Regions from separate parts of the Homo sapiens genome. Here region 1 is linked to region 2. The links come from fine-mapping of genetic effects on gene expression. A gene starts in region 2. The other region holds a variant in brackets. All regions are shown on one strand. Distances are between the middles of the regions. Region 1 overlaps NPLOC4 (NPL4 homolog, ubiquitin recognition factor). Region 2 holds the start of NPLOC4 (NPL4 homolog, ubiquitin recognition factor).

Evidence for each region. PIP is the estimated chance that this variant, and not a neighbour inherited with it, causes the effect.
Region 1: its variant is the best candidate, but not a certain one, in a credible set for the expression of NPLOC4 in monocytes after LPS (Quach 2016, PIP 0.55).

The regions. Positions count from the first base shown.
Region 1 is chr17:81,558,981-81,567,306 of GRCh38, forward strand. NPLOC4 (NPL4 homolog, ubiquitin recognition factor) reads right to left here. Exons shown (of 17, transcript NM_017921.4): 16 at 6,525-6,627; 17 at 1-436. The coding sequence ends at 279. Among named protein-coding and RNA genes, the nearest start is that of FAAP100, 11 kb to the left of the region's middle. RefSeq lists enhancers at 1-232, 233-732, 2,009-2,108. The variant A/G (reference allele first, on the strand shown) is at 3,309.
Region 2 is chr17:81,632,519-81,640,844 of GRCh38, forward strand. It overlaps NPLOC4 (NPL4 homolog, ubiquitin recognition factor), which reads right to left and starts at 4,594. Exons shown (of 17, transcript NM_017921.4): 1 at 4,398-4,594. The coding sequence starts at 4,412. It overlaps TSPAN10 (tetraspanin 10), which reads left to right and starts at 4,678. Exons shown (of 4, transcript NM_001290212.2): 1 at 4,678-4,888. RefSeq lists a silencer at 4,324-4,533.

The DNA.
Region 1 (8,326 bases), 74 kb before region 2:
ACGGCGGGGGACTTGTCAACAGGATTAGGCGTGAGGAGCCGCTCTGCGTTTCCAGTCTGGAGACTGCATTCAGCCTGCAGAATACCAGCCGTGGCGCCCGCTCTCCAGGGAGGAACGTGCTGAGAAGCTTCAGTGGGTCAGGGAGCCCAGGACAGCCAGCCCCTTGTTCCTCCAGGGCTGCCCACTATGGGGCAGTTACAGGGAACACACTCAGCAACGCTTCTGGCTTCAGGAAGGGCTGGGCTGGGCCCGGTCCTAGCCAGCAGAGGGCAGGCGCCCTAGGTCCTGGGGAGGCTGCACATCTCGCAGTGGCCTGTGCCTGGCTGGTTCATGAACGTGCAGTGCTGACAGGCCCACATGGCTGCAGTGGCCGTGTGTGTGGAGCCCCCGACGGCGCCGTACTCATGGAGACCTGGGAGCTGCCCGCCAACTGTGCCTGCAGGGTGGAAGAGAAATGAGCACTCATCATTTCTGGCCCACCAGAGACTGCCAGAGTGTGGGCATGGGGGCAGGGGCAGGCAGCTGAGAGCTCCCCGCCCCCAACATCCCACCCAGTGCTGGTCCTGCCCACACAGCACTCCCACCACAGGCACACTTTGAAGTGCTTAATGCCCTCAGAAAAATGCCTCCTGCACCACAGGGAGTAACAGGGAGCCTGTGCTTGCTGGTTCCTTTTTGTTGCAGAGGGTGCTTCTCCTTGTGAATAACGTAACTCCCCGGGGGATGTGCATTTGGGTTGTTTCCAGCTTTTTTTTTTTTTTTTTTTTTCTGAGGTAGGGTCTTGCTCTGTCACCCAGGCTGGAGTGCAGTGGCACGATCTCGGCTCACTGCAACCTCCACCTCCCGGGTTCAAGCGGTTTTCCTGCCTCAGCCTCCCAAGTAGCTGGGATTACAGGCATGAACCACAATGCCTGGCTAATTTTATCTATTTTTTGGTAGAACTAGGGTTTCACCATGTTGGCCAGGCTGGTCTCGAACTCCTGACCTCAGGTGATCCACCCACCTTGGCCTCCCAAAGTGCTGGGATTATAGGTATGAGCCACCATGCCCAGCCTCCAGTTTTGAGCTAATATGAACAAAGTTGCCAGGATCATTCTTCTACAATTTCTTTGTGGACCTGTGTTTTTATTTCTCTTGGATAAAAACAAAGAGTGAGGCTGGGTGCAGTGGGTCACGCCTGTAATCCCAGCACTTTGGGAGGCCGAGGCGGGTGGATCACTTGAAGTCAGGAGTTTGAGACCAGCCTGGCCAACATGGCGAAACCCGGTCTCTACTAAAAATAATTAGCCAGGCGTGGTGGTAGACACCTGCCGTTCCGGCTACTCAGGAGGCTGAGGAAGGAGAATCCCATGAACCCGGGAGGGGAAGCCTGCAGTGAGCCGAGACCCTGCCTCTTCACTCCAGCCTGGGCGACACAGCGAGACTCCATCTCAAAAACAAACAACAGGCCGGGCGCGGTGGCTCATGCCTGTAATCCCAGCACTTTGGGAGGCTGAGGTGGGCAGATCACAAATTCAAGAGATGGAGACCATCCTGGCTAACATGGTGAAACCCCGTCTCTACTAAAAATGCAAAAATTACCTGGGGGTGGTGGTGCGCACCTGTAATCCCAGCTACTAGGAAGGCTGAGGAAGGAGAATGGCGTGAACCTGGGAGGCGGAGGTTGCAGTGAACCGAGGTTGCAGTAAGCCGAGATCTCAAAACAAACAAACAAACAAACAACAACAACAAAAAACCTACCTAGGAATGAATCTGCCGGCCCACAGGGTAATGAATTGTGTGCTGAACTTTCTAAGACCCTGAGACACAGTTCTCGCGAGGGTGGCACGGTTTTGCCTCCCACTCGCAAGGTACGAGAGTCCCAGCTGCTTCACATCTTCACTCACACTTGACATTGTCGCGTTTTTTTCATTTCAGCCACACTGATGAATGTGTAACGGCTTCTCATGTTTTAATTTGCATTTCCCTGATGACTAATGATAGTGACTGTTCCTGCATCTCCTTTTTTTTGTTGTTGCCGAGGCTGGAGTGCAATGGCGCAATCTCGGCTCGCTGCAACCTCTGCCTCCTGGGTTCAAGCGATTCTCCTACCTCAGCCTCCCAAGTAGCTAGGATTACAGGCACGTGCCACCACACCTGGCTAATTTTTTTTATTTTTAGTAGAGATGGGTTTTCACCATGTTGGCCTGGCTGTCTCGAACTCCTGACCTCAAATGATCCACCGCCTCGGCCTCCCAAAGTGCTGGGATTACAGGCGTGAGCTACCATGCCCGACCTGCATTTCCTTTTGTGAAACGTTTCACCCTCCGCCCAGCTTCTTCTTCTGCTTTCTGTTTGATTAACAACAGGCAGAGTTATTTTTAAGTTTCAGATAGAAGTCATGTTGTGTGTATGTACTGCTAATACTGCGTCCCCCATTGGTGCCTTTTCATGTTTCTAACAGTGCCCTGTGATGAGCACAAGTGTTTTGTTTAGATAAATTTATTTATCAATTTACCTATTTTTATGCCAGTGTTTTTCTGTGTTCTACCCCAAGGTCCTGCATCCTGCCTAAAAGAATCTTTGCGTACCCCAAGGCCCTGAAGAGATTCAACTTAATAACTGTTTTACAGTTTTTATTTTTTTAAGACAGGGTATTGCTCTGTCATTCAGGCTGGAGTGGTATAATCATGGCTCACTGTGACCTCGACCTCCTGACTCATGGGATCCTCCCATTTCAGCCTCCCCAGAAGCTGGGATTATAGGCGTGGACCACTCACCATGCCCAGCTAATTCTTTTTTTTTTAATATTGTTTTTTTGTACAGACGGGGCTTCACTATGCTGTGTGGGCTGGTCTCACACTTCTGGGCTACAGTGTCCTCCAGCTTTGGCCTCCTAGAGTGTTAGGATTATAGCTATGAGACATCATGCCCAGCCTGCTTCATAGTTTTACCTTTTACCATTAGGCCTATGACCCATCCTGAGCTGATCTTTGTGTCTTGTGTATACACGTCTGTAATCCCAGCACTTTGGGAGACCGAGGCAGGTGGATCACCTGAGGTCAGGAGTTCCAGACCAGCCTGACCAACATGGTGAAACCCCATCTCTACTAAAAATATAAAAATTAGCCAGGCGTGGGTGCACGCCTGTAGTCCCAGCTACTCGGGAGGCTGAGGCAGGAGTATCACTTGAACCCAGGACGTGGAGGTTGCAGTAAGTGGAGATCATGAGATTGCACTGCAGCCTGGGTGACAGGGTGAGATTCCGTCTCAAAACAAAACAAAACAACCCATGAGGGCCGGGCGCGGTGGCTCACACCTATAATCCC[A/G]GCACTTTGGGAAGCCGAGGTGGGTGGATCACTTGAGGTCAGGAGTTTGAGACCAGCCTGGCCAACATGGAGAAACCCTGTCTCTACTAAAACTAAAAAAATTAGCTGGGTGTGGTGGCAGCCACCTGTAATTCCAGCTACTTAGGAGGCAGAGGCTGGACAATGGCTTGAACCCGGGAGGTGGAGGCTGCAGTGAGCTGAGATCACACTACTGCACTCCAGCCTGGGCAACAGAACAAGACTTTGTCTCAAAACAAACAAACAAAAAACCCATGAAAAAATGCCCAACATCACTAATCATCAGAGATGCAAATTAAAACCACAGTGAGATACCAGTCAGAACTTACACCAGTCAGAACTGCCTATTATTAAAGAGTTGGCTGGACATGGTGGCTTACCACTGCAATCTCAGCACTGAGGCGGGAGGATCGCTTGGGCCCAAGAGTTCAAGACCAGCCTGGGCAACATAGTGAGACCTCATCTCTACAACAAATTTAAAAAATCAGCCAGGGATGGTGGCACATGCTTGTAGTCCCAGCTGCTCAGGAGGCTGAGGCGGGAGGATTGTTTGAGCCTGGGGAGGTCAAGGTGAGACTGACCTCAAATGCCACTGCACTTCAGCCTGGGTGACAGAGTGAGAACCTGTCTCAAAAAAAAAAGGAGGGGGGAAAAAAAAAAGGTCAGGTGCAGTGGCTCACAGCTGTAATCTCAGCACTTTGGGAACCAAGGCAGGAAGATCACTTGAGCCTAGGAGTTTGAGACCAGCCTGGGCAACATGGCAAGACCACATCTTTTTTTTTTTTTTGAGACAGAGTCTTGCTCTGTCGCCCAGGCTGGAGTACAGTGGCACGATCTCAGCTCACTACAACCTACGCTTCCTGGGTCAAGTGATTCTCCTGCCTCAGCCTCCTGAGTAGCTGGGATTACAGGCGCTCGCCACCATGCCCAGCTAATTTTTGTAGTTTTAACAGAAATGGGGTTTCACCATGTTGGCCAGGATGGTCTCAATCCCTTGACGTTGTGATCCACCTGCCTCAGCCTCCCAAAGTGCTGGGATTACAGGTGTGAGCCAGCCACCGGGCCCGGCCAACCCTATCTCTTAAAGAAAAAAAAAAAACACCAACCAAAAACATTAGTTGGGTGTAGTGGCTCATGTTTATACTCCTAGGTACTCCGAAAGCTGATGCAGGAGGATCGCTTGAGCTCAGGAATTGAAGGCTGTAGTGAGCTATGATCACTCCACTGCACTCCAGCCTAGGCAACAGAGTGAAACCCTGTCTCTAAAAGGGAAACAAAAAAGAAAAAAAAAAAAAAGACTGGTGTCATTGTTAGAACTGCATCAAAGGGCTGGGTGCAGTGGCTCCCAGGTATAATCTCAGGACTTTGTGAGGCTGAGGTGCAAGGAATGCTTGAGGCCAAAGTTTGAGACCAGTCTGGGCAACACAGTGAGACCTCATTGATACAAAAATATTAAAAAATTTTGCAGCCATAAAAAGGAATGAAATCATGTCCTTTGCAGCAACATGGATGCAGTTGAAGGCCATTATTCTAAGCAAACTAATGCAGGAACAGCAAACCAAATACTACATGTTTTCATTTATAAGTGGGAGCTAAACATGGGTACTCACGTACATAAAGATGGCAACGCCAGGTGTGGTGGTACACATCTGTAATCCCAGCTACTCGGGAGGCTGAGGGAGGGGAATTGCTTCAACCCAGGAGGCAGAGTTTGCAGTGAGCTAAGATTGCGCCACTGCACTCCAGCCTGGGAGACAGGGTGAGGCTCCAGCTCAAAACACACACACACACACACACACACACACACACACAAAGAGCAGGGCGGGCTGAAAAACTATTAGGTACTATGTGTAGTACCTGGGTGATGTGATCAATCATACCCCAACCTCAGCATCAGGCAATATACCCAGGTGACAAACCTGCACATGTACCCTGTGAATCTAAAATAAGTTAAAATTATTTTTAAAAAACAAACAAATAAAAAGCAACAACAAAGCCCCAAGAATTAGCTGGGTGTGGTGTTGCAAGCCTGTGGTCCCAGTTACTCAGCAGGCTGAAGCAGAAAGATCACTTGAGCCTGGAGTTTGAGGCTGCAGTGAGTTACGATTGTGCAACTGCACTCCAGCCTCGGCAATAGAGTGAGACCCTGTCTCTACAAAAATAAAAATAATAAACAAAGAATTGTGTGAAAAGAAAACCTCGGCTGGGCGTGGTGGCTCACACCTGTAATCCCAACACTCTGGGAGGCAGAGGCAAGCAGATCACAAGGTCAGGAGTTCGAGACCAGCCTGGCTAACATGGTGAAACCCTGGCTCTACTAAGAATACAAAAATTATCCAGGCATGGTGGCACATGCCTGTAGTCCCAGCTACTCAGGAGGCTGAGGCAGGAGAATCGTTTGAACCCAGGAGGTGGAGGTTGCAGTGAGGCAAGATCACGCCACCACACTCCAGCCTGGGTGACAAGAGCCAAACTCCGTCTCAAAAAAAAAAAAAAAAACAGGAAATGGTATAAAGGTGTTTGATGTGTCTTTTGAAGGCTGTGTTAACAGAAGGATTCTAGCATTTGTCCAGGGCCGTAGCTCCCGGGCACTCTGGTGCTCTCAGCTGCAGGGACTCAGGGCACTCGGGCTGCACGAGGCACCACGGTGCGTGAGGAGTCCCTGCAGCAATGCTGACAGAAGGTTCTCACGAGTGGGGAATCGTTCAGGACCTGGTGACTGAGGGTCCGGAAGACACGCAATGCCTGCGGTCCGTTCCGTAGTGTCCACCAGCAACAACATGGATGCTGCAGGCTTCTCCTCCTTACAGCTTTAAGCACTAAAGGGAAATTCTCAAGGAGACCAAAAGGTCCCACGCTTCCGGCGCTTCCATAAAGTTTCTGATTCTCTTAAGACAATGATGTTCAAAGTGCTCCTAGGATGCCTGGAGATTAGTATCTCTGATGTACAGGTTTATAAAATTTACAGGGCTGTGTACCTAAGACGTACGGCCTGGACAACATGTCTGCTCCATCACCGGAGCCTGCCACGTGCCTGGCAGGGAGGCCGAGTCTCTACTCGTTGCATTGCCGATGGCACCTGCCAGGATGCAGCTGGGTGCGGAATCCAGGGCACCACCGGCAGTGGGGAGCTGTGCAGAGTGGGCTGCTCTCCGGCCCCAGCCACGGGGTGCCGGGGCAGGGGGTGGGGGTACTCACTGCACAGCTGCTCGATGGTGGCCCACTGCTCAGACCTCTTCCATGTCTGGGCGAGCTCCTCATTTCTGGTCCGCACGGCCTCCAGCAGCAAGCTGATGCTGTCCTACAAGAAGCCAAAAGGAAGGTTCCTCTTCGCTGTGCCTAAGGTGAGCAGCTTCCTGCTAGAACAGGTTTCTTTCTCCCCAACATCAAGACGTATTTCTGAGGACATTTTAAAAATCTTACAGGCTATCACTATAAAATGCAAACTGCCACAACTTACATCTATAAACGCAAGTGCTAAATTGAACTAGAATTTAAATTCTTCCCAAATAGGCCCAAGCGGGCATCTGTGCCTCTGCCTTGTGCTGACGGTGCTCAACAGCCCGGAGGATAGGAGCTCATGCCTCTCGTCCTGGAGGCTGGGATGGAGGGCGGAAGTCTTGACTGTGAGACGTGTCCTCCTCCCTCACATTTCATCCCTCTGCCTCTTTCTCCTCTCGTGTCTGGAAAAATGCACTCTCTATCCTAGCCTTCCGAGTCAAACTGCAGGGGATTAATGCATTAAGGATGGGCGCAGTGGCTCACGCCTGTAATCCCAACACTTTCAGAGGCAGAGGCAGACAGATCACGAGGTCAGGAGTTTGAGACCAGCCTGGCAAACGTGGCGAAACCCCGTCTCTACTAAAAATACAACAATTAGACAGGCGTGGTTGCGGGCACCTGTAATCCCAGCTACTCGGGAGGCTGAGGCGGGAGAATCGCTTGAACCCAGAAGGCGGAGGTTGCAGTAAGCCAAGATTGCGCCAATGCACTCCGGTCTGGGCAACAGAGCGAGACTCCGTCTTAAAAAAAAATAATTCATATATGAGAAACGGATAAAGCCTTCAGGAGCTCTCAGTACCTCCAGAGAATGTCTTCCAACAGATGACTGCAAAAATAGTGCAGTATACTAGCAAGGTGGCTCTGGTGTAGAGGGAGCCTCACCTTTCACCACCTGTCCAGACAGATGGGCAGCAGCTGAACCTCGGAGCAGGAGGTGCAGTTCCCTGGGCTGACTAGGGAAGGCACAGGCAGGGAAGAGGCACAGGGTGCCTGATGTCAAATACCCGAGTGAGTGGTTTTGAGACAAAATACAGACACAAAATAAACTAGCAGGATACAAGAACAGCTATAGGCTTCCTGACAGAGAAAGGCCGGGGGAGGAGGAGCCTCTCTATTCTGTCTCCTTCAGGGAAAAGTTCTGAGTCAGTGGCGGAGCAGCTCAGAAAGAATTTGCTCCTTTCTCTTTGGCATTTCCTGTTGGCTTGAACAGTGAAGAAAAAGCCAAAGTCGGACCCCTACACACGGCAAGAACCTCCTGGGGGCTGCTGCCCACTGGCCCCCACTACCCAGAGCAGCCACTTCTGCAAAGCACTCGCCCTCTTCTCCCCCAACGGTGTCTCTTAAAAATGCCAACTGTGCAGCTGTGAGCTTGGGGTCTGGAAGCTGGCCAAGCCTTCTGGGCCAAGGCAATAAAACCAGAGTTGATTTAGGAGGAGGGGAGATATGAGTAAAAAGCAGAGGCTGTGACTCTGAAACTGTTAGAACAGGAATTTTTTAAACTGTCTAACTCTAATGCTGGAGGCAGAGCTAAATCACCTCTGCTTCCCATTCGATTGTAACAGATGAAACCGTACTTCCTCACAGAGGTGCAGACACTCAATGGAAATGCTAAAGGTGAAAAAATTAATCTTTCTATCAACAAGCTTCTTGTGAAAAGCTGCTGCCTACACTCTGCCCATAGGACAAATGAGGGGGACAACCTGTGACCCCGAGCTTTG
Region 2 (8,326 bases):
GGCCAGGCTGGTCTCGAACTCCTGACCTCAAGTTATCCACCCACCTGGGCCTCCCAAAGTGCTGGGATTACAGGTGTGCACCACCACACCCGGCCTCCCTTATTTCCTTTTTCATAAATTCTATAACTATTTTCTGTGAGGTTACCACGAGTGTTACATTAAACATCCTCTTCAACCATTATGCAGATGAAAACTGTCACAAGCCATTGTCTAAAAAAGATTTCCACTGATACAGGACAAAACACCATAAAGGCTCAGTCTACTGGGATTTGTCCGCTTTTAGTAAAGTAACTAAGCCTAATCTAGATTTTCCTAAAATAGGATAACCCTGTCCTGCATTTTCCCATAACTTTCACTTGGCAGAAAAGGCTCCACCCAATATGTTCTCAACTTTTAAGTCAGGAGATTGAGACCATCCTGGCTAACACGGTGAAACCCCATCTCTACTAAAAATACAAAACATTAGCCAGGCGTGGTGGAGGGCGCCTGTAGTCCCAGCTACTTGGGAGGCTGAGGTAGGAGAATGGCGTGAACCCAGGAGGCAGAGCTTGTGGTGAGCAGATCGCGCCACTGCACTCCAGCCTGGGTGACAGAGCAAGACTCCGTCTCAAAAAAAAAAAAAAAAAGAAAAGAAATACAATTCTTTATACTTCTAACGTCTAGTATACTTCATTCTAGATTCAATACCCCAGAAAAACGTTTTCACAATATATAGCATTAGGTAAATACTTCCACTTATTTGTTTCTAAAATCTGTCTGCCAACACTTAGCTATCTTAAAAAGGAAAGCTCTGTTCTAATGAAGGGGAACATGTGAATGTTCCTTCAAACGATGACTCTGGAACAAGAGCATGTTACCGCCATTCTTTACAGAGCTAAATGGTTCAGGCTGCAGAATTCTAAGGTGAAGAAGTCATCCTACTTGATCCTCTACCACAGAAGATGGGAGTCCAGGTTTCCAAGGCCAACTCCAGTATTTAACAAGAGACAAACATAATTTGTACGATGGAAAGTTCTGGCCTAGCCTCTGACACAGACTACAAAATGAAATACACAGGAAGAGACAGACCTGACAACATGAACACACAGCCTCTTGGTAACTTAAGTTTCCCTATTTATAAGAAAATAAGACTAGAACGCTTCTTGGGGAAGTTGAAGAACTGGTGAGATACAGTTAAATCCACAGAAACTCTTTTCTCCCCCCAAGACAGAGTCTTGCTCTGTCACCCAGAGTGGGAGTGCGATGGCGCGACCTCGGTTCACTGCAACCTTTGCCTGCCGAGTTCAAGCAATTCTCTTGCCTCAAGCCTCCCAAGTAGCTGGGATTATAGGCGCCCGCCACCGCGCCCAGCTAATTTTTTTTTTTTTTTTAAGAGTCTCACTCTGTCACCCAGGCTGGAGTGCAGTGGTGCGATCTCGGCTCACTGCAATCTCCGCCTCCCGGGTTCTAACTTTTCTGCCTCAGCCTCCTGAGTGGCTGGGACTACAGGTGCACGCCACCACGCCCGGTTAATTTTTTGTATTTTTTTTTTTTAGTAGACGTGGGGTTTCACCGTGTTGCCCAGGCTGGTCTCAAACTCCTGAGCTCAGGCAATCCACCTGCCTCGGCCTTCCAAAGTGCTAGGATTACAAACGTGAGCCACCACGCCCTAATTTTTGTATTTTTAGTAAAGACGTGGTTTCACCATGTCGGCCAGGCTGGTCTCAACTCCTGACCTCATTATTCACCTGCCTCGGCCTCTCAAAGTGCTGGGATTACAGGTGTGAGCCACCATGCCCAGCCCAGAAACTTTTCAAAAGATCTCTTTCTTAAATTCAAAATAACTTTTTAAATCAATTTCAAAAGAAGAGTGTTTTAATTCCTCACAATCTGAGACATTCAACGAGATCCAATGCTGTCAATGAGAGCCTAGCCTTATACACTAGTGGGAAAAAAAAAATGGCCTTGTCTGAAACACTTTTCACTTGTCAATGGTTATTTTAACTCAGTTAAAAGTACAAAGGTAGTTTGAAAGAAGGTTTCAGTGCTAATTCCTAACCTATTTCTAGGCAAAGTCACCAATGATTAACACTTTTTTTTTTTTTTTTGAGACAGTCTTGCTCTGTCGCCCAGGCTGGAGTGCAGTGGCGCAATCTGGGCTCACTGCAACCTCCACCTCCCGGGTTTGAGCGATTCCCCTCCCTCAACCTCCAGAGTAGCTGGGATAACAGGTGCATGCCACCACACCCGGCTAATTTTTTATTTTTAGTAGAGACAGGGTTTCACCATGTTGGTCAGGCCAGTCTTGAACTCCTGACCTCGTGATCCGCCCACCTCGGCCTCCCAAAGTGCTGGGATTACAGGCGTGAGCCACTGCATGGCCACATTTTATTTTTCAAAGGAGTCAAAGGTTTCTTGGCCGGGCATGGTAGCTCAGGACTGTAATCCTAGCAATTTTGGGACCCCAAGGTAGGAGGATCCCTCGAGCTCAGAGACCAGCCTGTACAACATAGTAGAGACCTCATCTCTATAAAAAAATGTTTTTAATTAAAAAGATTTAAAGGCCAGGCGCGGTGGCTTATGCCTGTAATCCCAGCATTTTGGTATGCCAAGGCGGGCGGATCACGAGGTCAGAAGTTCGAGATCAACCTGGCCAACACGGTGAAACCCCATCACCACTAAAAATAAAAAAGACATCAGCCATGCGTGTTGGCGAGCACCTGCAACCCCAGCTACTCGGCTGAGGCAGGAGAATTTCTTGAACCCGAGAGGCGGAGGTTGCAGTAAGCAGAGATCGCACCACTGAACTCCAGCCTGGGCGACAGAGTGAGACTCCATCTCAAAAAAATAAAATAAGGTTAAAAAAAAAAAAAAAAAAGGAGTCGACGTTTCCTAAGTTTCTCCTGGGCCATATATTCATTCCACTCATCTCCAGGTTGGGAAACATGGAGGCACCAAGAGGGCCCCTGACTGGAGAGATGATGGAACCACCAGAGAACAGCCTTGCAAATAAGTGCTAGGTTCTCCTGGAGACCCATTTGTTTGTGTGTGTGAGACAGTCTCATTCTGTCGCCCAGGGTGGAGTCCAGTGACGCCACCTAGGCTCACTATGTTGTCCAGGCTGGTCTTGAACTCCTGACCTCAGGTGATCCACCCACCTGGGCTTCCCAAAGTGCTGGGATTACAGGTGTGAGTCACCGCGCCGGGCCTGGAGACCTATTCTAGACAACACCTGGCAAAACTGCAGAGACTGTCACAATGCTACAGTATGAACATTACTCTTCACCCAATACTGCTAAGCTTCCCCCAGAAATCCCAAATCTTCCTTAATATTAACCAAAATGCTCCTGTCCAATGGTCAGTTAGTTTTTTTCCCATCACATTTACTTTTGGGAAGAAACTTCTCACAACTTAACGAGGGACTGGTTTTCTGATTTGTCACTGATATTTTTTACGTTAAGGAGGAGTGTGTGACAATTTTTTTTTTTTTTTTGAGACGCAGTCTCGCTCTATAGCCCAGGCTGGAGTGCCATGGAGGGATCTCAGCTCACTGTAACCTCCACCTCCCGCGTTCAAGCAATTCTCCTGCCTCAGCCTCCCAAGTATCTGGGATTACAGTGCGCCATGACGCCCGGCTAATTTTTTGTATTTTTAGTAGAGACAAGATTTTGCCATGTTGGCCAGGATGGTCTCGAACTCCTGACCCCAGGTGATCCACCCGCCTCGGCCTCCCAAAGTGCTGACATCACAGGCGTGAGCCACTGCGCCGGGCCGACAATTTCAATTTCAGGTAAAAAGTGAAATCAACATCATTTACAACATTCCTTTTAAAGAGGAATTGTCAAGTTGTCCTTCCAAGTAAGGAGCAAAGCCGGCAAGTTACTGTGTTTTCATTTTCCCAGGTCTTCTGGTGGGGAGGGAGCTCTGTAACGTCCCCGTCTGCAGAGCTGCTCTCCTTAGTGACTCATGACAAGGCACTTGCTGGGAAGCGGGAGAGCAGGAGGAGAGAATCAGAGGGAGATTAGGATAAGAGGTGTCCCTGGCTCTGAGAGGGGCAGGACTGGCTGGGAGTCCCTGGAATTAGACCAGGAAGTCTCCTGGAGCCGGGAAACGGGTGGGGAAGGAGGGCGGTTTCTCTTCGCCACAGTCCATTCTCCCTGCTTAGAAAGGCTCGGCCTTTCCCTGCCCAGGGCGGGGAACCGGGGTCGTAAGTCCCCTGGGGAGGGACACGGACGGGAAGCAGCCGAGGGGGGTGAAAGTCCCCGAGAGGGGCCCAGCCACTACAGAGAAAGCCCTGGCGAGAGAAGAGAAAGGGGCCGAGTCGCGGCGCCGGCAGGCCCGCCTCCCCCACAGGCCGAGGCCGGCAAATCTGCTGCCTCATCCCGGCGTCCCCGCTCCCGCCCGGCCGCCGCACTCACGATGCTCTCGGCCATGGCGGCTGCTCCTGCCTCCGGGCTCGAGCCCCGGGCCGCCGCCGCCTGCCGCCCCAAGGGCCTCGCAGACCCGGCCGCGGCCTCAGCCCCGGCCCCGGCCTCCCTACGCCGCCGCCACCGCCGCTCCAGCTTCGCCCGCCCGGCTCCGCCAGCCGCCGACGTCCCGGTGCCTCGCTCAATACGCTCCCCTCGGGCGCGAGGCCGGGAAACCAGGTTCCGGCCCCACCAACGGCTCGACGCATGCGCAGGGCGGCGCCGCTGACCCGCCCCCGCCATCCCTGCAACTGGAGGAGGGGATTTTGGAAAGTTGCGTCTGAGATTACTTCTGCTCGTCCTCGGAAACCCAAGCGGCACAGGAAAGTCCAAAAAGGAAGCAAAGACGAGCATCCGAAGTCTCACCCAAAAATAACTACTGCTGCGTATTATAGCGTATTATAATTGGGGAAACAGCATTCCAAACTTCTCTCCATGCACAGGTAAGTAGAGAAACAATTTCAGGAAGGCAGGATCACACCTTCATGTTTTTTTTTTTAAGTATTTTTTAAATTTAACATAAGAAAAACAAACGAGTTTAAACTGCATTTCAGGCCGGGCGCGGTGGCTCATACCTGTAATCCCAGCATTTTGGGAAGCCAAGGTGGACGGATCACCTGAGGTCAAAAGTTCGAGACCAGCCTGGCCAAAATGGTGAAACCCCGTCTCTACTCAAAATACAAAATTAGGCCATACGCGGTGGCTCACGCCTGTAATCCCAGCACTTTGGGAGGCCGAGGCAGGTGGATCACCTGAGGTCAGGAGTTCAAGACCAGCCTGACCAACGTGGTGAAACCCCGTCTCTACTAAAAATACAAAAATTAACTGGGCGTGGTGGCGGGCACCTGTAATCCCAGCTACTCGGGAGTCTGAGGCCGGAGAATCTCTTGAAGCGAAGAGGCGGAGGTTAGAATGAACTGAGTTGGTGCCACTGCACTCCAGTCTGGGCGACAGAGTGAGACTTCATCTCAAAAAAAAAAAAAAAAGACGTCACTTCACAGATTCTAAGGATTTTTGGAGTTGGATACCAGGAAACCGGAAGACTAAATGTATACATATTTCACAACATCACAATTACTGTGACAGTTTTTTTAAACTATGTTAAATTACATTAATTGATTAAATTATGTTAGTAATTGTATTAGTTTGCTCAGGGTGCCACTGTAACTACCCAACATATTGTCCCTGCCCACTGCCTAGACTTTATCAAGACAGGGGAATTGCAATAAAGAGTTTAATTCACACAGAGCCAGCTTGTACAGGTTACTGAGGTTTTATTACTACTCAAAAAAAATTAGTGTCCTTGAGAATTCAGGGATCAGAGTTTTTTGTTTTTTGTTTTTTTTTGTTTTTGAGTCCGAATCTCACTCTGTCACCCACACTGGAGTGCAGTGGCGCGATCTCGGCTCACTGCAACCTTCACCTCCTGGGTTCCAGTGATTCTCCTGCCTCAGCCTCCCGGGTAGCTGGGACTACAGGCGCACACTACCATGCCTGGCTAATTTTGTATTTTTCGTAGAGACGGAGTTTCTCCATGTTGGTCAGGCTGGTCTTGAACTCCTGACCTCAGGTGATCCGCCCACCTGGGCCTCCCCAAAGTGCTGGGACTATAGACGTGAGCCACCGTGCCCGGCTGGGGATCCGCGGTTTTAAGGATAATTTGGTGGGTATGGGGTCAGAAAGTAGGGAGTGTTGATTGGTTGGGTCAGAGGTGAAATGATAGGGAGTCAAAACTGTCCTCTTGTGCTGAGTCGGTTCCTGGGTGGGGGCCACAAGATATGAGCCAGTTTATCAATCTGGGTGGTGCCAGCTGATCCATGGAGTGCAGAGTCTGCAAAATATCTCAAGCGCTGATCTGTTTTTTAATAGTGATGTTATCCTGAGAAGCAATTTGGGAGGTTTAGAATCTTGTAGCCTCCAGCTACATGACTCCTAAACCATAATTTCTAATCTTATGGCTAATTTGTTAGTCCTGAAAAGGCAGTCTTGTCCCCAGGTAGGAAGGGAGTTTGTTTTGCAAAGGGCTGTTACCATCTTTGTTTCAAAGCTAAACTATAAACTAAGCGCCTCCCGAAGTTATTTCAGCCTACACCCAGGAATGAACAAGGACAGCTTGGAGGTTAGAAGCAAGATGGGTTCAGTTAAGTCCGATCTCTTTAACTGTAATAATTATCTCAGTTATAAGAAAATATAACATAACAAAATCTCTCACAGACTGGGTGGTGGTTTGGAATTACTTTTCTTTTTTTTTTTTTTTTTTTTTGAGTCGGATCTCCCTCTGTCGCCCAGGTTGGAGTGCAATGGCGCGATCCCAGCTCACTGCAACCTCCGCCTCGTGGGTTCAAGCGATTCTCCTGCCTCAGCCTCCTGAGTAGCTGAGATTACAAGCGTGCGCTACCACGCCCGGCTAATTTTTATATCTTTAGTAGAGACAGGGTTTCACCATGTTGGTAAGGCTGGTCTCGATCTCCTGACCTCGTGATCCACCCGCCTCAGCCTCCCAAAGTGCTGGGATTATAGGCATGAGCCACCATGCCCGGCCTGGAATTACTTCCTAACAGTCCTGGAAGCTAGAATCCCAGATCAAGGTGTCAGTAGACGTGGTTTCTCCTTTGTTTTCTTCTTTTTTTTTTCTTTTAAGGCTGGGGTCTTGGCCGGGCGCGGTGGCTCACGCCTGTCATCCCAGCGCGGTGGCTCACGCCTGTCATCCCAGCACGGTGGCTCATGCCTGTCATCCCAGCGCGGTGGCTCACGCCTGTCATCCCAGCACTTTGAGAGGCCGAGGCAGGTGGATCACGAAGTCAGGAGATCGAGACCATCCTGGCTAATATGGTGAAACCCTGTCTCTATTAAAAATAAAAAAAAAATTAGCCGGGCGTGGTGGCGGGTGCCTGTAGTCCCAGCTACTCGGGAGGCTGAGGCAGGAGAATGGCGTGAACCCGGGAGGCAGAGCTTGCAGTGAGCCGAGATCACGCCACTGCGCTCCAGCCTGGGCGACAGAGCAAGACTCCGTCTCAAAAAAAAAAAAAAAAGAAAAGACTGGGGTCTCACTCCCATCGCCGAGGCTGGAGTGCAGTGGCACAATCGTGGCTCACTGTAGCCTCGACTTCCCAGGCTCAGGTGATACTCCCACCTCAGCCTCCTCAGTAGCTGGGACCACAAGTGCTCACAATCACACCTGGCTAACTTTTTGTATTTTTAGTAGAGATGGGATCTTGCTATGTTGCCCAGGCTGGTCTCTAACTACTACTAGGTTCAATCAATCCACCCACCTCAGCCTCCCAAAGTGCTTAGATTACAGGCATAAGCCGCTGTACCCAGCCAGGTTTCTTCTTATACCTCTCTCCTTAGCTCGAAGATGGCACCTTCTCCCCGAGACCTCACATGTTTTTTCTTCTGTGCACACATTCCTCGTGTCTCTCCATGTGTCCCACCGTGTGTCCCAATTTTCTTGTAAGGATGTTGGATTAGGGCCCACGCTAATGGCACTTATTTATTTATTTAGGGATGGAGTCTTGCTCTGTCACCAGGCTGGAGTGCAGCGGCACCATCTCGGCTCACTGCAACCTCTGCCTCCTGGGTCCCAGCAATTCCCCTGCCTCAGCCTCCCATGTAGCTGGGATTACAGGCATGCGCCACGATGCCCAGCTAATTTTTTGTACTTTTAGTAGAGACAGGGTCACACCATGTTGGCCAGGCTGGTCTCAATCTCCTGACCTCATGATCCACCTGCCTCGGCCTCCCTAAGTGCTGGAATTACAGGTGTGAGCTACCGCGCCCAGCCCCTAATGGCCTTTAAAGGCCCTGTCTCCAAGTCCCATTCTGAGGTCCGGGGGGCTAGAACTTTATCATAAGAATGTAAGGGGCACAATTCAGCCATA